Linked DNA regions of Homo sapiens: regions 2 and 3 are each linked to region 1. Evidence: fine-mapped expression QTL. A gene starts in region 1. Each other region holds a variant in brackets. All regions are shown on one strand. Distances are from middle to middle.

The links. PIP is the estimated chance that this variant, and not a neighbour inherited with it, causes the effect.
Region 2: its variant is the best candidate, but not a certain one, in a credible set for the expression of GPR137B in whole blood (INTERVAL, PIP 0.50).
Region 3: its variant is the best candidate, but not a certain one, in a credible set for the expression of GPR137B in whole blood (TOPMed, PIP 0.59).

The regions. Positions count from the first base shown.
Region 1 is chr1:236,137,826-236,146,063 of GRCh38, forward strand. GPR137B (G protein-coupled receptor 137B) reads left to right here and starts at 4,714. Exons shown (of 7, transcript NM_003272.4): 1 at 4,714-5,211. The coding sequence starts at 4,798. RefSeq lists silencers at 4,453-4,632, 4,703-4,972 and an enhancer at 4,938-5,441.
Region 2 is chr1:236,113,778-236,122,015 of GRCh38, forward strand. No RefSeq gene overlaps it. Among named protein-coding and RNA genes, the nearest start is that of GPR137B, 25 kb to the right of the region's middle. RefSeq lists an enhancer at 6,901-7,020. The variant T/C (reference allele first, on the strand shown) is at 4,233.
Region 3 is chr1:236,190,311-236,198,548 of GRCh38, forward strand. All of the region lies in intron 5 of GPR137B (G protein-coupled receptor 137B), which reads left to right. Among named protein-coding and RNA genes, the nearest start is that of GPR137B, 52 kb to the left of the region's middle. The variant T/C (reference allele first, on the strand shown) is at 3,387.

The DNA.
Region 1 (8,238 bases):
ATCTGTTTTGTCATCCATGACTCCGTGGATCTAACGGTGCTCAAAGTGTCAATGGCAGATTGGAGAGGTGTACATTACCTGTGACAAGCCCTGTTAGGAGAATCACAGTGTCAGTTATAAGGGTTTGGGAACACATACATGCCTTATTTGTCAAATAACTATTTTTCTTTTGAGAGAAAGAGATGGCTTGCTCCTGGGCTGTGGAAGAGACTGAATGTCTCATCAAGAAGGCAGATTACCATGGAGTCTGAGCTGCCCGTCTTGAGCTGCATGTTATTTTGATCCATCAAGCCACCAAGTCAGGTTCCCCAAAACACCCAGCTCTACTGGAGGCTCTCAGCATTCAGGTGGACATGTCTACCTGCCCTGGGTATGGAAGACATCTTCTGTCCCCAGTTAGCCCACTGCTTATTCAATGGGCTCATGGACACAGTGACCATGCAGGCAGGGACTGACTGATCCATTTTGTAACAATCTGGACTTCCCCACCAAGGCTGACCTGGCTTTTCATGAGTATCGCCAGCCAACTCTGAGCCTTTCAAGAGGTTTCAAACTCAGGGGAAGTCCTAGACAGCCACCTGAAAGCAGATTATATAGACCTCTTTAATCACGTAGGATATCAGCAATTTGTCCTTGCTGTAATAGACAATGTTTCTGAACTTGGACTGACTTTCTTTGCCTCCTGTGCCTGCGTTATTGTCCCGGGACTTTCTGAATGCATTGCTCATCATCATGGTATCCTATACAATATTGCTCTGACCAAGGACCTCACTTTATACTAAAAGAAGAAACGTGGTAGGCTAATTTCTGTCCCTCAAGTAGCAGCTGGCCTTATCCAGTGGTGGAATGACCAATTGTAGGCTTAGTTATTGTGCCTGCAGGACAACAATGCACAGAAAGGTAGCATTGGTGTCCTATAATATATAGAATTTCTTCTGAACCCAAAGCTGACATATCGTGCTATTTGTCCTGCAGTCAGGATACATGGCTACAGGAACCAAGAGAATGGCACCTTTCACTAACACTCAGTGACTTACTTGCAAATTTTTTTGTTTCCCGTTCCTTCGCCTCTAGGCTTGGCTAGTTTGAAGGTCTTAGTAACCAAGGAGGAACTCTTCTACCCCAGGAGATTCAAGTGTGGTTTAAGTGAAATAAAAGTTGAGACCCTGGCTATTTCAGACTCCTCATGCCAGTGGGTGAATTGTAAAAAATAGTATGATGGTGTTGGCTGTGATGACAGTAACTATTAAGAGGAAGTAGAGTTGCTGTTATATGATGAGCAATAAAAGGTGAATAGACAGAATTCAATCATGGTAGTGCCTCTTGCTGCTGGCATGTCCAGTGGCAAACATTAACAAGCTTAGATTCCTCAGAAATCAGGGCTACCCCTGACTAGCTGAGATCCCTGATGAAGGGAAAGGGAAATTTTGTAACGTCCATTAAGGAGAGCAATTACAGCTTTATGACCAGTCAGAAAAACAACAACTCTAACTTATATTTTTTTCTTGCTGTGTCATATGTATGTATTTTATAAATTGATGCAAAAGTAATTGTGGTTTTTGTCATTACTTTTAATTGCAAAAAGCCACAATTACTTTGGCGCCAACCTAATAATGAATTCTCCTTTCCTTTACATTTTTTTCTTCTACTATTTTATACAGGACAAACTAGTGATGGATAACTTAATAATTTAGTCCGTAAGATACAGAATGTTGAGATGAGATGGTGACAGAATTGGAGGAATGGCTATCACCCAGAGCTCCTGGGCTTGGAGCTGGACACAGAAAATGATGATCCTTTTGGGGGAAAGAGGGAATGTGTTTTTCTGTTTTCTTCCTTCCTTCCTTCCTTCCTTCCTTCCTTCCTTCCTTCCTTCCTTCCTTTCTCCTTCCTTCCTTTTTTCCCCTCCCTCCCTCCTTCCTTCCCTTCCTTCCCTTTCTTCCCTTCCTTCCTTCCTGATGGAGTCTCACTCTGTGGCCCAGGCTGGAGCTCAGTGGCGTAATCTCAGCTCACTGCAACCTCCGCCTCCTGGGTTCCAGCGATTCTTGTGCCTCAGCCTCCCTAGTAGCTGGGATTACAGGCATGTGCCACCACACCCGGCTAATTTTTGTATTTTTAGTAGAAACAGGGTTTCACTTGGTTGGCCAGGCTGGTCTCGAACTCCTGACTTCAGTTGATCCACCTGCCTTGGCCTCCCAAAGTGCTGGGATTACAGGTGTGAGCACCTGGCTTGGAATGCTTTTCAATTGTACAAGGGTTATTAAGTGGGAGCATCTTTATTGTATTTTCAGAATTGTAAAGATGATAAGAAACATTTGACACTAGGTAGTCAAAGAGGTGAACTGTTGTAGCCATCTGGCATTCTTTTTGTCTGCTTTGAAGTCATGATAAAGATGCTAGTTTTTCCTAAATCCATTCGCCCCTTCATCCATAATTACAGAACCATGGCTTTCAGCTGTGTACAATGCCACGTGGACTAAAACTACGTTTCCCAATCTCTTGTAGCCAGCTTGCTAGGGTAATTAAGTCCTAGCAATGAGCTAAAAGTGGATGCATTATGTGGTCTTTCTGGGAAGGCTCCAGAAACAGGAGAAAACAAGTGCTCTTTAGTCTTCCCCTGTTCCTCCTAACGCTGGCCTGGGATGTGGACTCAATGTCTGGAGAGCCAGTAGCCCTCCTGGATCATGAGGTAGAATCCATGCACACTGGAGGGAGAAATATCAGAGTCTGGACCTCTGTTGACAAACAATATTCCTTCAGTGTAATAAAATGTATACGGATGCTTTTCCAATGTGCCAGGGGAGAGACTGGTAAACAAGCCTAGTTTCTATCATAAGGACACATAAATAAGTGTGTTGCGGGGGAAACTAACAATCAGGCAAGGATATTAGGGAAGCACACAGGTGAAACACCTAGCCTAATCCTGAGAGTTTGGTGGGTGGAGAGTTCTGGAGAGGCTCTCTGCAGGAAGTTACACCCTCATGGATAGCTAGGAAGGACCAGCTGTTGGAGGAAAGGGCAGAATTTTCTTAGTCTAGGGGAGTCAGGAGGTGTTAACACTGCTTAACACCTTGGAAGAGATAAGGCAGGGAGGTAAGCTAGGGTAGGAGTTTAGACTCTAACCCCAGAACTATGAGGAGCAAGGGAAGGGCATTTAAGCACGGGAGTAAAGTGGCCAGGTGTTCTTTAGAGCGATCATTCCATCATTCCACTTGCGCTGTTCAGAACGGGGATTGAGGGGAACGAGATCAGAGGCGTGGAGCCCAATTCCGTATTTCCTCTTGAAATAGCGATAGGGAGAGAGGGAAAGGATAGAAAAACTGGAAAAGGAGCTCCACGCCAAAGGCACACTTGGCCCCAGTGAACCACCTGGAATACGCTGGGAGCGCTGTAACCACTAAGTAATTCTGAGCAAAAGCTAGGGTGGATTCTGGATATGCCAGGCCGTCTTTTGGAAAAAGAACACACAATTAGGCACGAAGTGGAGTAAGAAAAGAAATCACAATTACTGGAGCCTCGGAAATCCGAGTTTCTTCTGTTTACCAGAACCGCTTGCCCAGCAATGTTTCCAGAGGGCGCCCGGCTTTCCCTCTTTTCCCAGAGCACTCCCCAGCTCTCCCAAGACAAGGGTGGCGTGGTGCCCCGGGGCAAAGACTAAGTCGCTGTACAGCCTCGAGGAGCGAGCTGCTCAGCAAAAGCAAAAGAGAAGGGCTCTCGGGTGGCGGGGACAGACCCTCCTTCGGCATGGGTTGGATCGGACAAGGGGGGCCGTGTGCCGTCAGCTGCCCCACTTCTCTCTGAAGCCCAGTGGGCTCCATCCACTGACCCGCGGCCCGCGCGCCTCCCGGCACCGGCTACATCGCTGGGAGGTGAGGCGCTGGGAGCGCGTGAGGCTCTCCGGGAGAAAACAGCCCAGCTTGCATCCCAGAGGAGGCAGCAGCCGCAGGCACCGTCTATTTCCTCACTCAGTATACAAATTTGACCTCAAAAATACGAACCCTGTCTTTGGCATGTCTGCATTTAGAAATAAACATCATTCCAGACGCCGGCCAGTTCATAGCCACAGAGTCGTAAAGTTTTATTTTTAAAGGGGGGGACGGAAAGGACTTGTAAAGTTTTTTTTTTAAATTTGTTTTTAAATAAAGGAATTAACTTCTGCAAAACAAGCAATCAGCAGCAGAATGCGCGAGGCCACGAGTGCGATCCCCCGAGGCGCGGGGCGCGGCTGGGAAGTTTTGGGGGCGCGCGGCGCGGTGCCGGGACCGGGGAGGAGGCGCGCGGTTCTGGGGGCGCGCAGTGCGGGAGCGCGCGGCCCCGGGGATGGGGAAGGGGCCGGGGACGGGTAGCGCGCGGCCCCTGGGATGGGGAGGGGGCGGGAAGGGGGGAAGAGACGCGGGGCTCTGGGGGCCCGCAGTCTGGGAGCGCGCGGCCCCGGGGATGGGGAGGGGGCCGGGAGGAGGCGTGCGGCTCTGGGGGCGCGCACTGCGGGAGCGCGCGGTGGCGAGGATAGGGCGGGCCGGGGTTCGCGGGGCGAAGGCGCGCGGTGCCCGGGGGAGGGCGGGCCGGGGCGCGCGGGCCGGGGCGGGGGCGCGCGGGCCGGGGCGGGGGCGCGCGGGGCCGGTCGGCGCGCGGGGGCGGCGGGCGCGGCGCTGCCAATCGCAGACAAAGGCCGTCCCAGTGAATCATGTGGTGCCGGGGGAGGAAGTGCGGCTTGTTTTCTTTCCTCCAGTCTCGGGGCTGCAGGCTGAGCGCGATGCGCGGAGACCCCCGCGGGGGCGGCGGCGGCCGTGAGCCCCGATGAGGCCCGAGCGTCCCCGGCCGCGCGGCAGCGCCCCCGGCCCGATGGAGACCCCGCCGTGGGACCCAGCCCGCAACGACTCGCTGCCGCCCACGCTGACCCCGGCCGTGCCCCCCTACGTGAAGCTTGGCCTCACCGTCGTCTACACCGTGTTCTACGCGCTGCTCTTCGTGTTCATCTACGTGCAGCTCTGGCTGGTGCTGCGTTACCGCCACAAGCGGCTCAGCTACCAGAGCGTCTTCCTCTTTCTCTGCCTCTTCTGGGCCTCCCTGCGGACCGTCCTCTTCTCCTTCTACTTCAAAGACTTCGTGGCGGCCAATTCGCTCAGCCCCTTCGTCTTCTGGCTGCTCTACTGCTTCCCTGTGTGCCTGCAGTTTTTCACCCTCACGCTGATGAACTTGTACTTCACGCAGGTGAGTTTCAGAGAGGCTCCTGGAGGCGCTCACCTGGCGGGGTGGTCCCCGCGGGGCGCCCGAGGCAGGGGCGATGGCAGCCGCGGGGGCGGGTCCGGCCCTAGGGCTGAGAGTGTAGGGAGAAGGCGCCGGCTCTGGGGTCGTCCGAACCCTGTCCTGTTTGCGGGCATTTGTCATAGGAAACCCCCTGCCATTCCCAAAAGGGGCAAGGAGAAGGCAGGGGAGGGCTGGAGGCCGCCGCTCACTCGCTGCCCCTGGCTCCGCATCGTGCGGTGGATTCGGGGCGCTTCTCCGTGCGCAGCGCGAAGCAGCAGCGCCTGCACACGCCAGTTAGTACGGATGGAAGGTGTGCCCCCAAGGGAGGCCTGAACTCTAGAATTTGCCCTGCCTCCCCAGGCACCTAACTCCCGGCCTGGAAAGGTCTTCTGCACGTTGGCCTCCAGATTTGGGCCTGACACTGCTGTTTTGAGCGTTGGCAGGGTGAGACCATGTTGGTTTTGATGAGATGTTTTGAACCTCCGGCTTAGGAGCTCTACAGAACTGCGGCTTACTAACTCATTCCACCGGATTGCTAAACAGCAGGCTGGGGTAACACCCAGCTCCGAGCTGCTGCCGCTCATCAGAGTTACTGTCTGAGCTCATCTGAGAGGCCCCAAGAAAAGGCCATAAAAGCTGACTGGGGCTCTTTTACAGCCACACAAAAATCACTTTATGGGGCATATTATTAAATAAGCTAATGGGAGAGTATGTGAATTAACTTGGCTGCTGCTTTACTGCTGATGGTTGACTTAATGAAAGTGCAGTAATTGTTGAGCACTTTGCAAATACTTTGTATAGCGTTGCACAAAGGTTTAATAACGCGGTGCCGCCGTCATCATCGTCATCATCATCTCTGATTCCCATTAGCTTTCCAAGCACTAAGATGTCCATTTTCACTAGGACTCTGCCGAAGGGGAAGGCGTCAACGGTGTCACCTGGTGAGGGTAATTTCAGAACTGTCGGATGGGCAGAAACCCTGTGCAAGCAGGCATCTCATTCCTTTTAAGTGTCTTTTTTTTTTTTTTTGAGAAAAAGTCACTTATTTAAAAAAAGAAAGAGGCCGTATGCGGTGGCGCATGCCTGTCATCCCAGCATTGTGGAGGCGGAGGCGGGAGGATCGCTTGTGTCCCTGAGTTTGAGACCGGCCTGGGCAACATGGCGAAACTTCCTCTCTACAAAATGTACAAAAATTAGCTGGGTGTGGTAGTGCCCGCCTGTAGTTCCAGCTACTCAGGAGGCTGAGGTGGGAGGCGGAGCCCGGGAGGCGGAGGTTGCAGTGAGCAGAGATTGAACCACTGCACTCCAGCCTGGGTGACAGAGCTAGATCCTGTCTCAAAAAAACAAACGAACAAACAAACAAAAAAAACAAAGTAGGAAAAGGATTGCTCTGGTACAGTGGAAGCCACTGACTGAAAATATGGAAGAAGTACTTTTGGCTAAAAAATAGCATATGTGATATTTTGTAGATAGTATAATCTTTTAAAAATGGGTCTACACTCAGACTTCTTGTAAGTCCAGCGCATCAGCATATTTTCCGGTCGGAGAGTAATGCGTATTGCCTGTCCAAGTACAACCTTTAAACCTGCAAACCAGTTCAGGCAGTCGGCTGCATTGCACAGACACTTGGGTTTTGTAATTGAAATGAGGTGGTTCTAGCAAGATGCAAAAGACAGGTGAGGTGATGTTACCCTAAGAACTGTGACAATGGTGGTATTGCACGTTGAGCTCTTTATATTTGTCCCCTTTTTGGGGGGCAGTGGGGGAAGAGGAAAATGCAGGGAACTGCCACAGCTCTCTGGTAATCACATGCAAATTCTGAACTTAGAGCCGGATTAGGGGCCGGGCTGCACATTTTCTGCACCATCTGCTGGTTGGTGAGTAAATGCTGAGCAAGGGAAACAGTGACCAGGCAGACAGAGCCACTCCGGCCCAGGGGCCCAAAGTCACGGCCCTGTACTCTTTATATCTCCCAGGTCTGCGGGCACCACAGCAAAGGCTTTTCGCCTGAGGGCACAGGGTGGCTGGCTGGAGAAGGTGGCATGTCTCCATCTCTGAGTGCTGGCATCTCAGAGCCTGGCAGAACAAAGCCATTTCTGGCTTAGTGACAAAACTGTGATACTTCTGGGGAGTTATAAAGCCTTTTGTCGCCAACCCAGCTCTGCCTCCCTTCTCCTCCTCTCCCGCTCACCCCCTCTTTCTCTTACACAAACCATTGGAATTACCTAAAGTGGGGAGCTTTAAGAATGACTGTTGCTTGGGCCCCCATCTCAGACCAAGTAAATGAGATTTTTGGAGAAGGGGCTGACAGCTAACAATTAAGAAGTATGTTTAAGAAAGCATACTTTCGATCTCGGCTCACTGCAGCCTCCGCCTCCCGGGTTCAAATGATTCTCCTACCTCAGCCTCCTAAGTAGCTGGGACTACAGGTGTGTGCCACTATGCCCAGCTAAGTTTTGTATTTTTAGTAGAGACAGTGTTTCACCATGTTGACCAGGATGGTCTTGATCTCTTGACCTTGTGATCTGTCCACCTCGGCCTCCCAAAGTGCTGGGATTACAGGTGTGAGCCACCGCACCCGGCCAAGAAAGCACACTTCTAAGCAATTGGTTATATTTATTTTTACCAGAACTCTCTGAAGAAAGTACCGGTATTGTCCCCATTTTCCAGAGGAGGAAACTGAGGCTGAGAGGTCGTAGATGACTTGCTCAAGGTCACACTGTCAGTGCATGGTGGAGCTGGGATTCAACACACATCTGTGCTGTCTGAGTGTGAGGTTTGTCTTTTATGTACAGTATGTGAAACCTCTTTTTATTTTATTTTTTGAGATAGAGCCTTGCTTTGTGGTGATCTGGGTTCACTGCAACCTCTGCCTCCTGGATTCAAGCGATTCTCCTGCCTCAGCCTCCCGAGTATCTGGGATTACAGGCACCTGCCACTGCACCTGGCTAATTTTTGTATTTTTAGTAGAGATGGAGTTTTGCCATGTTG
Region 2 (8,238 bases), 24 kb before region 1:
GGGCCGTGCACCCTCTGGAGGCCCTGGGGGAGGCTCCTTCCCGGCCCTTTCCCAGCATCTGGCATTGCTGGCAGCCCTTGGGATTCCTTGGCTTGTAGATGTGTCACTCCAGTCTCTGCCTTTGGTGTCACAGGAACTTCTCCCCTCTATCTCTGTCTGTGTCCAAACATATCTTTCCTTTATACAAACACCAGTCATTGGATGTAGGGTTCCTACTCCAGCATGACCTCATCTTACCTTGATTATATCTGCAAAGACCCCATTTCCAAATAAGGTCACTTTCACAGCTACAGCGGGGGGCAGGGTTGGGACTTCAAAATATCTTTTGGGGGAACACAAAAGATATATTGATATATATATTTCCCCTACATCATTTGGGGAAGTGATATTTGAGCCAAGATCTGCAGCTTGAGAAAATCTTATCCAGTCAAAGAGGTCAGGAAGCAGGTTCTGGGCAGGATGTGGCCTGTGCAAAGGCCCTGGGGCAGGAGGGAGCACAGCACCTACAAGGGACTGAGCAAGGGCAGAGGAAGGGATGGGCTTTGGGCACTGATTATCTTTAGGAGTGAAAGAGTTGCTAGGTATTATTATTGTTGTTTCTATATAAAGGATCACACAGGACAGGTCTCAGTGCCCCGTCCTGATGTGCTGTCCAAGCTGCTCAATCTGTTTTCCTGCTGTATGCCTCACACCCAGTTCTTTTCCCATCACGTATCATTCAGAGCAATGTGCAACCGCAAATATTTCTAAATGGGGAGAACTCAGGCAGATGGCGCGGCATGCCTTCAGCTCAGTGCACAGACTCTGCCCCAGACAACCCACCTGTGTGTCCACATTCCCCACTGACTGAGCACCTCCTGAGGGTGGGGGGCATATCATGTTAATATTTGTACATCCAACATTTCATGAAATGTTATGAACATCAGAGGAGTTTTATAAGTGTTTGCTAAATGTTACTGACTTAGATTTTCAGGGTGTGGCCAATTCCATCCGAAGGGCGTTATTTATCTTGTCACTAACCGTATCCTAGAGAAGTTATTAAGCATCCGTCTAATTCAAAGGAAAATGGGTAGATGGTGGGAGGATTAGAGAGTGGACGCCATGTTGGAATGCAGGGGTAGGGGAAAGCCAGCTTGCTAATCAGAATGTCAGTGAAGGCTGGGAGCTGGGGCTCACGCCTGTTACCCCAGCACTTTGGGAGGCTGAGGCGGGAGGATCAGTTGAAGCCAGGACTAGCCTGGGGGAACACAATGAGACTGTGTCTCTACAAAAAAAAAAAAAAAATTAAATACATTAACCAGGTGTGGTGGCACATGCCTGTAATCCCAGCACTTTGGGAAGCTAAGGTGGGCAGATTGCTTGAGCCCAGGAGTTCAAGACCAACCTGGGCAATATGACAAAACCCCATCTCTACAAAAAATATAAAAATTAGCCAGGTATGATGGTGCACACCTGCAGCCCAAGTTACTCAGGAAGGTGAGGTGGGAAGATCACCTGAGCCCAGTGAGGTCGAGGCTACAGTGAGCCGTGATGGTGCCACTGCACTCCATTCTGGGTGTCAAAGTGAGATCATGTCTCTAAATAAATAAATAAATAATTGTTCTATAGAATTTTATTGATTTAAGAAAATGTTCAGAATAGATTTATAAGTAAAAAATTTAAAAGGTATATATACATAGGCCGGGTGTGGTGGCTCACTTTGGGAGGCCTTTGGGAGGCCAAGGTACGTGGATCACCTGAGATCGGGAGTTTGAGACCAGTCTAACCAACATGGAGAAACCCCGTCTCTACTAAAAATACAAAAATTAGCCAGGTGTGGTGGTGGGTGCCTGTAATCCCAGCTACTCGGGAGGCTGAGGCAGGAGAATCACTTGAACCTGGGAGATGGAGGTTGCAGTGAGCCAAGATTGTGCCATTGCATTCCAGCCTGGGCAACAAGAGCAGAACTCCATCTCAGAGAAAAAAAAAAAAGGCATATATACGTGTGTGTTGATTTGTGTATAGAATAAGACATGCATTTAAAAAAAAAAAGGTAGGATTGCAAGTGGGGTTTTTTCTTTTTCTTTTCTTTTTCTTTCTTTTTTTTTTTTTTTGGAGACGGAGTTTCGCTCTTGTTTCCCCGGCTGGAGTGCAATGGCGTGATCTTGGCTCAGCACAACCACCGCCTCTTGGGTTCAAGCGATTCTCCTGCCTCGGCCTCCCAAGTAGCTGGGATTACAGGCATGTGCCACCAGGTCTGGTTAATTTTTGTATTTTTAGTTGAGACGGGGTTTCTCCATGTTGGTCAGGCTGGTCTCGAACTCCCAACCTTAGGTGATCTGCCCACCTTGGCCTCCCAAAGTGCTAGGATTACAGGTGTGAGCCACCGCACCCAGCTCCGGTTTTTTTCTGTTTCTGAATTTTCCTATGTGTGCTGCATGGAACCATTATAATTAATTTTAAAAAGCAAATATATTTCATTTGTCTCTTGAAAACTTAAAACAACTCTTTATAAGAATTTTACATGTGCAAGATGGTATACTATATAGTCATTTACAATAATGTTTTAAAAGAATATTCCATAATATGAGAAAATATTCATGCTATATTTAGTGGAAGGAATAGGTTATGTAAAATATACTGTTTTTGTTTGTTTGTTTGTTTGAGATGGAGTTTTGCTCTTGTTGCCCAGGCTGGAGTGCAATGGTGTCATCTCGGCTCTCTGCAACCTCTGCTTCCCAGGTTCAAGCGATTCTTCTGCCTCAGCCTCCTGAGTAGCTGGGATTACAGGCATGCACTACCACACCTGGCTAATGTTTTGTATTTAGTAGAGATGGGGTTTCACCATATTGGTCAGGCTGGTCTCGAAGTCCTGACCTCAGGTGATCCACCCACCTCAGCCTCCCTAAGTGCTGGGATTGCAGGCATAATCCACCACACTTGGCCAATATACCATAATTTTTAAAAGGGCATTTACAGAAAGACTATCAGTAAGTCTGGTATAATACATATAAACTGTGGGGTTACCAGGAATGCATATCTGCTTCTTTATACTTTTCTGTATTTTCCAGATTTTTAATTATGAATATGAATATGAGTATGAAGCTATAATAAGAAAAGTTATTTGAAAGTCACATTATCAAATTGTTCAGGTTATCATGGCCAGGCAGGGTGGCTCATGCCTGTAATCCCAACACTTTTCGAGGCCGAGGTGGGCAAATCGCTTGAGCCCAGGGGCTCGATACCAGCCTGAGCAACATGGCAAAACCTTGTCTCTACAAAAACTATAAAAATTAGCCAGATATGATGGTGCACACCTGTGATTCCAGCTACTAGGGAGGCTGCAGTGGGAGGATTGCTTGAGCCCAGGAGGCAGAGTTTGCAGTGAGTCATGATTTCACCACTGCACTCCAGCCTGGGCAAAAGAGCAGGACCCTGTCTCCAGAAAGAAAAAAAAAAGTGTCAAGTTGAGAGACAATGGTTATTTTTTATTTTTGAGATGGAGTCTCGCTCTGTCACTCAGGCTGGAGTGCAGTGGCACCATCTCGGCTCACTGCAACCTCCATCTCCCGGGTTCAAGTGATTCTTCTGCTTCAGCCTCCCGAGTAGCTGGGACTTCAGGCACGAGCCACCTCGTCCGGGTAATTTTTGTATTTTTAGTAGAGACGGGGTTTCACCATATTGGCCAGGCTGGTCTCAAACTCCTAGACCTCATGATCCGCCCACCTCGGCCTCCCAAAGTGCTGGGATTACAGGTGTGAGCCATTGCGCCTGGCCAACAATGATTATTTTTAATTTTATTCCATGGTTTTCTATATTTTCCAAATTCTTCTCAATAACATAAAAATGATTTCATATTGTATTAATTACTACAATGCAACATTGTAAGGTCGGGGGACGCTGATGGTAGTCTACCTCCTGATCCTCTAGTATGCAGTATTTCACCCAGGGTTTTCACAAGCAGTTTCTCATTTGGTCCTCAGAGGACCCTATACCTAGGTGAGGATGGCGGTGCTGCTTCTGAGAAGTCGCTGCCTCCCCTTCTCCCTTTAGCCTCCCTGGCAAAATAAGACACTTCGATTGCGGGGCCACAGTCAGTTCTGACTCTGATATCTTACGACACCTATCAGGGATCAGCCTGGACCTGTTACCTGAGCGGGGTGTGGCCTCCTTTCCTCTGCGCTTTCCCCACACCTGAAACTCCTGATCATTCAGCCCCTTACCTCTCCCAAGCTTTCAGCACGAGCTCTCCT[T/C]CTTAGCCTTCTAAATAAATAAACAACACCTGCACAGAACACTGCCATTTTCTGTAAGCTTTTCTTCCCCTTTAAAAATTGCAGTAAAATATACATAAGACAAAATGTATCATTTAAATCATTTTAAGTGTACAATTCAGTGGGGTGATATACATAAGGCAAAATGTATTATTTAAATCATTTTAAGTGTAAAATCCAGTGCCTTTAAGTCCCTTCACGATGTCGTTGCAACTGTCACCACCATCCAGCTCCGGAACTTCTTAATCATCCGTGGGTAAGCTTTTGAAGCTTTTGAATCCATAGTCTCATAACATTTTATTGCCGTCCTCATCGTCAGGTGAGGAAACTGAGGCTTTCTTCCTTACCTTGCTTTTGTGTTTTCTCTTTAACACTTGCACTCTGGCTTTTGCCCGTGGCTGTCCTGGAACTGACTCCCTTCAGGCTGTCAAAGGCCTCCTGGGGGCTGAGTTTCATGGGCTGCTTCCTGGTCTTGTCTTGTTTCTGGTCTGCAGCATTTGACAATCTTGTTTTCCAATCTCTCTTAGAAATTATCTCCTCCCCAGGTTTCCATAATACTCTCTGTCTTGAGTTTCCTACTACTAATTCTTGGGTGTTTTCTTGTCCTTTTCTTTTCATGTTTTTCTGTTTGATTGTTTTGTTTCTTTTTGTTGTTTTGAGACGGAGTCTCGCTCTGTTTCCTAGGCTGGACAGCAGTTGCTTTATCCTAGAACTTATGATGTAGCTGCCTGTGTGCCCATCTGTCTCCACAACAGAGCAAGGTCCTGGAAGCAGAGGTCGGGGGCGTGGGGGAGGTCTTGCTTGTCCTCTTTATGTCTCAGTGCTTAGTGTACCTTATATTTGGACAATGAATAAATAAATGTGCGCTGCTCTAGAAAAGAGATCATTGTCTCAATGGAGTGAAAATCAGTAAGGGGTAGGTCTCGGCTCACTGCAACCTCCACCTCCCTGGTTCAAGTAATTCTCCTGCCTCAGTCTCCCGAGTAGCTGGGATTACAAGCGCTCACCAACCCGCCAGGCTAAATTTTTGTATTTTTAGTAAGAGATGGGGTTTCACCACATTGGCCAGGCTGGCCTTGAACTCCTGACCTCAGTTGATCTGCGGGCCTCGGCCTCCCAAAGTGCTGGGATTACAGGCGTAAGCCACTGTGCCTGGCCCCTTTTCATGTTTTTATGTTTTGAGACGGAGTCTCGCTCTGTCACCCAGGCTGGAGTGCAATGGCGTGATCTCGGCTCACTGCAACCTCCACCTCCCTGGCTCAAGCGATTTTCCTGCCTCAGCCTCTCAAGTAGCTGGGATTACAGGCGTGAGCTACCACCCGGCCTCTTTTCATGTTTTTAAATTAGTCTCCCCTTTTTATTTTATTTTATTTTTTAGATAGAGACAGGGTCTCGCTATGTTGCCCAGGCTGGTCTCGAACTCCTGGACTCAAGCAGGTTCTTTTCTTCAGGCTTCTCCTTCTCCTGCCTCAGGAACTCATCCTCACTCCCTGCAACGTTTCAATAAGCACTTGCCTGGTTTGCCTGCCTCTGGCCTTGCTAATTAGACAACTACGATCTTTCTACCAGGAAAGTGTGATCCTGCCCTCAAGTCTACAAGGGCGGCCTGAGCTGACATGATAACATCTAACCTCTTTAGTTAGATATAGGATGTCCCTTGTCATCTGGCCCCTGGTGACCTCTAACAATATCCCCATCCCACTCCACCCCTTTACAGTCTGCAGTAGAACCGTCTGCAGTCCCAGTGCTGGAAGCCCAGGCTGCCTCATGCCTCCCTGTCTCTGCATACATGGTCGCTTTATCCTAGAACATATGATGTAGTTGCCCGTGTGCCCATCTGTCTCCACAACAGAGCAAGGTCCTGGAAGCAGGGGTAGGGGCGTCGGGGAGGTCTTGCTTGTCCTCTTTATGTCTCAGTGCTTAGTGTACCTTATATTTGGACAATGAATAAATAAATGTGCGCTGCTCTAGAAAAGAGATCATTGTCTCGATGGAGTGAAAATCAGTAAGGGGCAGAGTAAGGACTGGACATCAGGTCTTGGAAAGTTCTGACCCTTCCCACTATGTAAACATCCTTTCTACTGAGGGACCTCACGGGGTGACAAAGCCTTAGAGGAAATGTACGCAGTCTCTGCATGGTCCTAAGAAAATAAAGGAAATAAAGTAAGTGTTGTAATCCTGGACTGGAGTAGAAAGACTTCTTAGGGGGAGGCATTTTAAGGAGGGTGGAGAGGGGGATGCTTCCCGCCTCCGGATCACAGTCTACGAGAGCTTGCTGCTTTAGATGAGCCCACACCAGACCGAGACACAGGCAGAGCGGTGCGGCTGAAAGACATCTCTGCATCAGAAAACTTGAGTCCTGGTTTTTTCTACATCTGCCGCTGACTAGCAGATCTCAGAAGGCCCAGCAGCCTTCAGGTGTAAAACAAAGGAGTATTTTCCATCTCTTTCAACCCGAAAATCCAGAAAGTGGGGACATCTGTGTTTGAAGATTGTTCAACATTTTTCAGATTAAACTGATCCACATTTTCCAAGGTATCAAAGTGGTGGCTGCATCCTCTCATGGTGCTGGGAATCACAGACTTCTCCCCTCACCCTTGATTGTGACCTGATTCTAGAAGACGGTTGCTGATAGAAATGTCCAAGTTATTCAAGGGGCTTCTCTAGAGGAAACAACTTCCATTTCACTCTTGATTCTCTAGAGGAAATATAACTTTCGTTTCACTCTTGATTCTCGAGAGGAAACAACTTCTGTTTCACTCTTGATTTTCACTATTTTCACGTTACGGGTTGAGATAAATGGCCTTAGATTTGACTCATCGAGGAGAGAGCGATTCTGCCTAGAGTTCTTTGAAAGCCGGCTGTACTGAGTGAGATCCTAGGTCACTGCAGAGAAGGAAAGGGAAGAGAAGTGGGGAGGGAGAGGGGAACAGAGAGGGGCACGGAGAGGGACAGGGAGATTGGTTTCCTTTGACAAACCCAGCTGGTTTCCTCGGTAGTTGTGTGTGGTTTCCACCAAACCCACCTATCACTTAGTTAGGACTGCTAATTAGGGGGCAGAGATGAGGACTGCTGTCTGTAGTCGTAAAGATGGTTACTAAGCAGGAGGCTGAGCTGGTGGTTGCAGCTGACACTGGAAATTCACCCAGCTTCGCCCCCCGGGAGATGTGCCACCCCTACATCGTAGGCAGCTGTGGGCCACAGGCATTTCGTTCTCCAAAATCCTACATTCATCTTACTTCATTTAATGTTTGCAGCCACATAAGAAGTAGAAAACATAACTTGATTTCCAGATTAGAAGACTGAAGTTTGGACAGAAAAAATAACTTGCCCAGTGTCACCCAGCGGGCACACGGAGGAGCTGGGATTCAACATCAATGACTCCAGGACCATGGTCTGTCTCCACGAGACTAGTCTACCCACCTCGATTCTCTGCCTGGTAGGCCTTCCCCACTTTTCCACCTGCTAAATCAATCACACCTGGTTGCATCTCTCCTTCTTTCCTCCCCTAACCCAAGACTCTTTTTTGTTGTTGTTGTTTTGGAGATGGAGTTTGCTGTTGTTGCCCAGGCTGGAGTGCAGCGGCACGACCTCGGCTCACCACAGCCTCTGCCTCCCGGGTTCAAGCGATTCTCCTGCCTCAGCCTCCCGAGTAGCTGGGATTACAGGCACGCGCCACCATGCCCAGCTAATTTTTGTATTATTAGTAGAGATGGGGTTTCACCATGTTGCCCAGGGTGGTCTTGAACTCCTGACCTCAGGTGATCCACCCGCCTCAGCCTCCCAAAATGCTGGGATTACAGGCGTGAGCCACCATGCCCGGCCATATCCCATGACTCTCTAAAGCACTCTGTGGTTGTTTCTGGGTTATTTTCACTTCTCCAATTAGGAGGTAAGTTTTTTGGGGTCAAAGAGCATGTTTTCGACTTTGTTTTCATCCTATCCCAAATTGCCTGGTACCAAGCTTGGTAGCTGATGAGCCAACAGG
Region 3 (8,238 bases), 52 kb after region 1:
GGGGCATTTAGCCCATTTACATTTAAGGTTAATATTGTTATGTGTGAATTTGATCCTGACATTATGATGTTAGCTGATTATTTTGCCCATTAGTTGATGCAGCTTCTTTATAGTGTTGACGGGCTTTACAATTTGATATGTTTTTGCAGTGGCTGGTACTGGTTGTTCCTTTCCATATTTAGTGCTTCCTTCAGGAGGTCTTGTAAGGCAGGCCTGGTGGTGACAAAGTCTCTCAGCATTTGCTTGTCTATAATGGATTTTATTTCTCCTTTACTTATGAAGCTTAGTTTGGCTGGATATGAAATTCTGGGTTGAAAATTTTTTTCTTTAAGAATGTTGAATATTGGCCCCCACTCTCTTTTGGCTTGTAGGGTTTCTGCAGAGACAGCTGCTCTTTGTCTGATGGGCTTCCCTTTGTGGGTAACCCGACCTTTCTGTCTAGCTGCCCTTAACATTTTTTCCTTCATTTCAACCTAGGTGAATCTGACGATTATGTGTCTGACGATTATGTGTCTTGCCCTTCTTAAGGAGTATCTTTGTGGTGTTCTCTGTATTTCCTGAATTTGAATGTTGGCCTGTCTTGCTAGGTTGGAGAAGTTCTCCTGGATAATATCCTGAAGAGTGTTTTCCAACTTGGTTCCATTCTCCCCATCACTTTCAGGTACACCAATCAAATGTAGATTTGGTCTTTTCACATAGTTCCATGTTTCTTGGAGGCTTTGTTCATTCCTTTTTATTCTTTTTTCTCTAATCTTGTCTTCTTGCTTTGTATCATTAAGTTGATCTTCAATCTCATATCCTTTCTTCCACTTGATCGATTTGGCTCTTGATACTTGTGTATGCTTCACGAAGTTCTTGTGCTATGTTTTTCAGCTCCATCAGGTCATTTATATTCTCCTCTAAAGTGGTTATTCTAGGTAGCAATTCATCTAACCTTTTTTCAAGGTTCTTAGCTTCCTTGCATTGGGTTAGAACATGCTTCTTTAGCTCGGAGGAGTTTATTATTACCCACCTTCTGAAGCGTACTTCTGTCAGTTCATCAAACTCATTCTCTGTCCAGTTTTGTTCCCTTGCTGGCGAGGAGTTGTGATCCTTTGGAGGAGAAGTGGCATTCTGGTTTTTGGAATTTTCAGCCTTTTTGTGCTGGTTTCTCCCTATCTTTGTGGATTTATCTACCTTTGGTCTTTGATGTTGGTGACCTTCGGATGGGGTCTCTGAGTGGACATGCTCTTCCTTTCTGTTTGTTAGTTTTCCTTCTAACAGTCGGACCCCTCTGCTGCAGGTCTGCTGGAGTTTGCAGGAGGTCCACTCCAGACCCTGTTTGCCTGGGTATCACCAGCGGAGGCTGCAGAACAGCAAAGATTGCTGCCTGTTCTTTCCTCTGGAAGCTTTGTCCCAGAGGGGCACCTGCCAGATGCCAGCCAGAGCTCTCCTGTATGAGGTGTCTGTCAGCCCCTACTGGGAGGTATCTCCCAGTCAGGATACATGGGGGTCATCGACCCACTGAAGGCGGCAGTCTGACCCTTAGCAGAGCCTGAACGCTGTGCTGAGAGATCTCCTTCTCTCTTCAGAGCCATCAGGCAGGCACATTTAAGTCTGCTGAAGCTGTGCCCACAGCTGCCCCTTCCCCCAAGTGCTCTGTCCCAGGGAGATGGGGGTTTTATCTATAAGTCCCTGACTGGGGCTGCTGCCTTTTTTTCAGAGATGCCCTGCCCAGAGAGGAGAAATCTGGCAGTCTGGCCACAGTGGCCTTGCTGAGCTGCCATGGGCTCTGCCCAGTTTGAACTTCCCAGCGGCTTTGTTTACACTGTGAGGGTAAAACCACCTACTCAAGCCTCAGCAATGGCGGATGTCCCTCCCCACACCAAGCTTGAGTGTCCCAGGTCGACCTCAGACTGCTTCTGTGCTGGCAGCGAGGATTTCAAACCAGTGGATCTTAGTTTGCTGGGCTCCGTTGGGGTGGGACCTACCGAGCCAGACTACTTGGCTCCCTGGCTTCAGCCCCCTTTCCAGGGGAGTGAATGGTTCTGTCTCACTGGCGTTCCAGATGCCACTGGGGTATGGGGAAAAAAAAAAAAACAAAAAACCTCCTGCAGCTGGTTCAGTGTCTGCCCAAATGGCCGCCCAGTTTTGTGCTTGAAACCTAGGGCCCTGGAGAGGTAGGCACCAGAGGGAATCTCCTGGTCTGCGGGTTGTGAAGACTGTCGGAAAAGTGCAGTATCTGGGCCGGAGTGCACAGTTCCTCAGGTTCAGTCCCTCATGGCTTCCCTTGGGTAGGGGAGAAAATTCCCTGACTCCTTGCACTTCTCGATCGAGGCGACACCCCACCCTGCTTCGGCTCACCCTCCGTGAGCTGCACCCACCGTCCAAGCAGTCCCAGTGAGAAGAACCAGGTACCTCAGTTGGAAATGCAGAAATCACCCACCTTCTGTGTCGATCTCGCTGGGAGCTGCAGACTGGAGCTGTTCCTATTCGGCCATCTAATAGGTGATATGTTTTTATCGCTGTATGACATCACTGGTTTTAAGGAATTTTAAGTTTTTCTTAAATGTTTCCTTTTTATCATTTCATTTCAAGCTTTTTTTGTTTGTTTGTTTATTTGGATACAGAGTCTGGCTCTGTCACCCAGGCTGGAGTGGAGTGGGGTGATCTCAGCTCACTGCAACCTCTGCCTCCTGGGTTCAAGCGATTCCCCTGCCTCAGACTCCCAAATAGCTGGGATTACAGGTGCCTGCTACCACGCCTGGCTAATTTTTGTATTTTTAGTAGAGATGGGGTTTCATTATGTTGGCCAGGCTGGTCTTGAACTCCTGAACTCAGGCGATCCACCTGCCTTGGCCTCCCAAAGTGCTGGGATTACAGGTGTGAGCCACTGTGCCTGGACTATAATTTCAAACTTCTTGACCCACATCAAGAAGTTTGAAATGATAAAAAGGACACATTTAAGGAAACCATTTGTGGATATGAGTGGACATTTGGGTCATTTCCACCATTTGGCTATGATGAATAAGGCTGTTATAAACATTTGTGTATAAGTTTCTGTGTGAACATATGTTTTCATTTCTCTCGGGTATATTCTTAGGAGTGGAATTGCTGGGTCATATGGTATTTCTGAGTGTCACTTTCTGAAAAACTGCCAGACTATTTTCCACAGAGACAGCACCATTTTACATTCTCACCAGCAGTGTATGAAGGTTCTGATTCCTCCACGCTCCTAGCACTTGTTATCTGACTTTTTGATTCTAGATATCATAATGTGTATTAAATGATATCTCCTTTTGGCTTCTGATGTATATTTCTCTGATGACTAAGTTTGTCGAGGATCTTTTTGTGTGCTTAGTGGTCATTTGTATATCCTCTTTGGAGAAATGTCTGTTCACATCCTT[T/C]GTCCATTTTTAAACTGGGTTGTCTTTTTATTATTGAATTGTAAGAGTTCTTTATATGTTTTAAATATACTCTTAAGTCCCTTGTCAGGTATATGATTTGCACATATTTTCTCTCATTCTGTAGCTGTCTTTTCACTTTCTTGATTGGTATCCTTTGAAGCACAAAAGCTTTTACTTTTGTCCACTGTATTTATCTTTTGTTGCTCGTGTTCTGGTGTCATACCCAAGAACCCTTTGCCACATCGTATACTGATGGTCCCTGATTTACAACAGTTCAACTTACAATTTTTCAACTTTACAGATGGTGTGAAAGCAGGACACATTCAGTAGAAACTATAATTGAAATTTTGAATTTTTTAATCTTTTCCTAGGCTAACAATATGGGGTATGATAATCTCTCAAGATGTATAGAGCAGTGAGGCACAGCTCTCAGTCAGCCATGCGATCATAGGGGTCAACAACTGATACTCTATGGTGTGTATTTTTTATTTGTTTTCAACTTACAATGAGTTTATCAGAATGTAACCTCATCATAATTTTGAGAAGCATCTGTATTTGCCCCTGAAAACTTGCCCCTATATTTTTTTCTAAGAGTTTTGTAGTTTTTGTTCTTACATTTGGTCTTTAATACATTTTGAGTTATTTTTTGTATATGGTGTGAGATAAGGATCCAACTTCATTCTTTTGCGCGTGGCTCATAGGTATTCTTAAACTATTAAAAAGAGTAAATTTTAAGGCAATCCACCTTGTGTTAGTTCCACTTTGCTCCTTATGTTTGGCTGCAATTAGTCTTAGCAAAGCAGGAATTCACATTTAGATAGCCGTCATGTGGCCACCTCTGTTCATGTTCTATTAACTTTTAAATAGGTCACTGATGTTAAGAACAATGATGTCAAAACATATGCCTGATTTGGTGTACCATATAATCTAGTTCTGATCTTGTTTAGGCTTTCCTGACAAAGACAACTTTACTTTTTAGAAGCTGCTGGCAGAAAAGGCTTTTCAAACCCCAACAGTCATCCCAGGGCAGCTGTGATACTGAAAACTGGCAATGACCTCTAGGGTGTACCTGAGACCAGTCATTGGAAATTTTTTGAGAGGTAAACTCAGTTTGGGGGCAGAAACAGGATGAAATGATTATAGAGGCAGGAGATGGAAATGGGATGAGAAATCCTCCCCAAATGATTTCACCATTGTTATGACTGCTCTCATGATTTATATCCAAATTGAACTATCTACTTTATTCTGGCTAATTTGGGCATCATCTAGCTTTTAAAAATTTTTTTGTAGGTACATAGATAATAGGTGTGTATATTTATGGGGTACATGAGATGTTTTGATACAGGCATGATGATTATTTCACATCATGGAGAATGGTGTCTCCATCCCAAGCATTTATCCTTTGTTTTACAAACAATCCAATCACACTCTTTTAGTTATTTTAAAATGTACAGTTATTATTGACTATATAGTCCACCCTGTTGTTAGTGCTATCAAATAGTAAGTCTTATTCATTCACTAAAATTCTTTTTTTTTTTTTCCCCATTAACCATACTCTCCCCCCGCCACTACCCTTCCCAGCCTCTGGCAACCATCCTTCTCCTCTCTGTGTCCATGAGTTCAATTGTTTGAGTTTAGATCCCACAAATAAGTGAGAACATGCGATGTTTGTCTGTGTCTGGCTTATTTCACTTAACATAATCATCTCCAGTTCATCCATGTTGTTCCAAATTACTGGATTTCATTCTTTTTTATGGCTGAGTGGTACCCCATTCTGTATATGTTCCACATTTTCTTTATCCATTCATCTGCTGATGAACACTTAGGTTGCTTCCAAAGCTTAGCTATTGTGAACAGTGCTGCAACAAACACAGGATTGCAGATATCTCTTCAATATCCTGATTTCCCTTCTTTTGGGTAGATACCAGCAGTGGGATTGCTGGATCATGTGGTAGCTCAATTTTTATTTTTGAGGAACTGCCAAACTGTTCTCCATAGTGGTTGTACTAATATACATTCTCACCAACAGTGTTCAAGGGTTCCCTTTTCTCCACATCCTTGCCAGCGTTTGTTACTGCCTTTTAGATATAAGCGATTATAACTGCAGTGAGGTAATATCTCACTGTAGTTTTGATTTGCATTTCTCTGATGATCATTGATGAACACTTTTTGATATGCCTGTTTGCCATCTGTATGTTGCCTTTCGAGAAATGTCTGTTCAAATCTTTTGCCCATTTTTAATTTTGATTACTACACCTTTTCCTAATATTCTGGTTGTTAATCCCTTGTCAGATGGGTAGTTTGCAAATATTTTCTCCCATTCTGTGGGTTGTCTTGACTTTGTTGTTTCTTTTACTGTGCAAAAGCTTTTAACTTGATATGATCCTATTTTTCCATTTTGCTTTGGTTGCTTGTAGGATATTGCTCATGAATTCATTTATTTTTATTTTTATTTATTTTTGAGATGGAGTCTTGCTCTGTTGCCCAGGCTGGAGTACAGTAGCATGATCTTGGCTTACTGCAATCTCTGCTTTCTGGGTTCAAGTGATTCTCCTGCGTCAGCCTCCTGAGTAGCTGGGACTACAGGCATGAGCTACCACACCCAGCTAATTTTTGTATTTTTGGTATAGATGGGTCTTCACCGTGTTGGCCAGCCTGGTCTCGAACTCCTGACCTCAAGTCATCCACCTGCCTCAGCCTCCCAAAGTGCTGGGATTACAGGCATGAGCCACTGTGCGTGGCCAAGAATTAATATTATTTTTAAATTTTTGTCTTAATTTCAAAAGTTTTTGGGGAATAGGTAGTGTTTGGTCACATGGAAAAGTTGTTTAGTGGTGACTGCTGAGATTTTGGTGCACCCATTACCTTAGCATTGTACACTGTACCCAATGTGTAGTCTTTTATCCCTCACCCTCTTCCACCCTTCCCCCAGGTCCCCAATTCCATTATATTGCTCTTATCCCTTTGCATCTTCATAGCTCAGCTCCTGCTTATAAGTGAGAAGATATAATGTTTGGTTTTCCATTCCTGAGAGTTATTTCACTTAGAATAATGGTCTCCAACTCCATCCAGGTTGTTGTGGATGCTATTTCATTCCTTTTTATGGCTGAGTAGTAGTCCATGGTATATATATACCATTTTTCTTTATCCACTAGTTGGTTGATGGGCATTTAGGCTGGTTCCATATTTTTGTATTTTGGGAACTGTGGATTGTGTGGCTATAAACATGCCTGCACAAGTGTCTTTTTCATATAATGACTCCTTTACCTCTGGGTAGATACCCAGTAAGTGGGATTCCCACCAGCAGTATAAAAGTGTTCTTTTTTACTACATCCATGCCAACATCTGTTATTTTTTTATTTCTGAATTATGGTCATTCTTGCAGGAGTAAGGTATGGGGCATCTCATTGTGGTTTTGGTTTGCATTCCTCTGAGAATTAGTGATGTTGAGGATTTTTTCATGTTTGTTGGCCATATGGATATCTTCTTTTGAGAATTGTCTATTCATGTCCTTAGCCCACTTTTGGATGGGATTAGTTGTTTTTTTTTCTTGCTGATATGTTTGAGTTCTTGAAGATTTTGGATATTAGTCCATTGCTGGATGCATAGTCTGTGAATATTTTCTCCTACTCTATGACTTGTCTGTTTACTCTGCTGATTATTTCCTTTGCTGTACAGAAGACTTTTTGTTTAATTAGGTCCCATGTATTTATCTTAGTTTTTGTTTTATTTGCTTTTGGATTCTTGGTCATGATCTCTTTGCCTAAGACAATGTCTAGAAGAGTTTTTCTGATTTATCTTCTAGAATTTTTCTGGTTTCAGGTCTTAGATTTAAGTCTTTGATCCATCTTGAGTTGATTTTTGTATACGGTGAGAGATGAGGATCCAGCTTCATTGTTCTACATGTGGCTTGCCAATTATCCCAGCACCATTTGTTGAACAGGGTGTCCTTTCCCCACTTTATGTTTTTATTTGTGTTGTTGAAGATCAGTTGTCTGTACATATTTGGCCTTATTTCTGGGTTCTCTATTCTGTTCCATTGGGGTACCTGCCTCACTCTGTCACCCAGGTTGGAGCACAGTGGCACAATCCCGGCTCATTGGAACCTCCGCCTCCCAGGTTCAAGTGATTCTCCTGCCTCAGCCTCCTGAGTAGGTGGGATTACAGGCATCTACCGCCATGCGCAGCTAATTTTTGTATTTTTAGTAGAGACGAGGTTTCACTATGTTGACCAGGCTGGTCTTGAACTCCTGACCTCAAGTGATCCACCCGCCTCGGCCTCCCAAAGTGCTGGGATTTCAGGCTTGAGCCACTGCATCCGGCCCTGCCTGCCTATTCTTATACGAGTACTATGCTGTTTTGGTAACTATAGCCTTGTAATATAGTTGGAAGCTGGGTAATGTGATACCTCCAGATTTGTTCTTTTTGCTTAGTCTTGCTTTGGCTATGCACGATCTTTTTTGGTTCCATACGAATTTTAGAATTTTTTCTATTTCTGTGAAGAATGATGACCTTTTTGTTTTTTTGAGACAGAGTCTTGCTCTGTCGTCCAGGCTGGAGTGCAGTGGTGTGATATTGGCTCACTGCAATCTGTGCCTCCCAGGTTCAAGTAATTCTTGTGCCTCAGCCTCCAAAGTAGCTGTGATTACAGGTATGCACCACCACACCTGGCTAACTTTTGCATTTTTTAGTAGAGACAGGGTTTTGCCATGTTGTCCAGGCTGGTCTCGAACTACTGACCTGAAGTGATCTACCTGCCTGGCCTCCCAAAGTGCTGGGATTACAGGTGTGAGCCACTGTATCCAGCCTGATGATGGTATCTTGATGGGAATTGCATTGAATTTGTAGATTG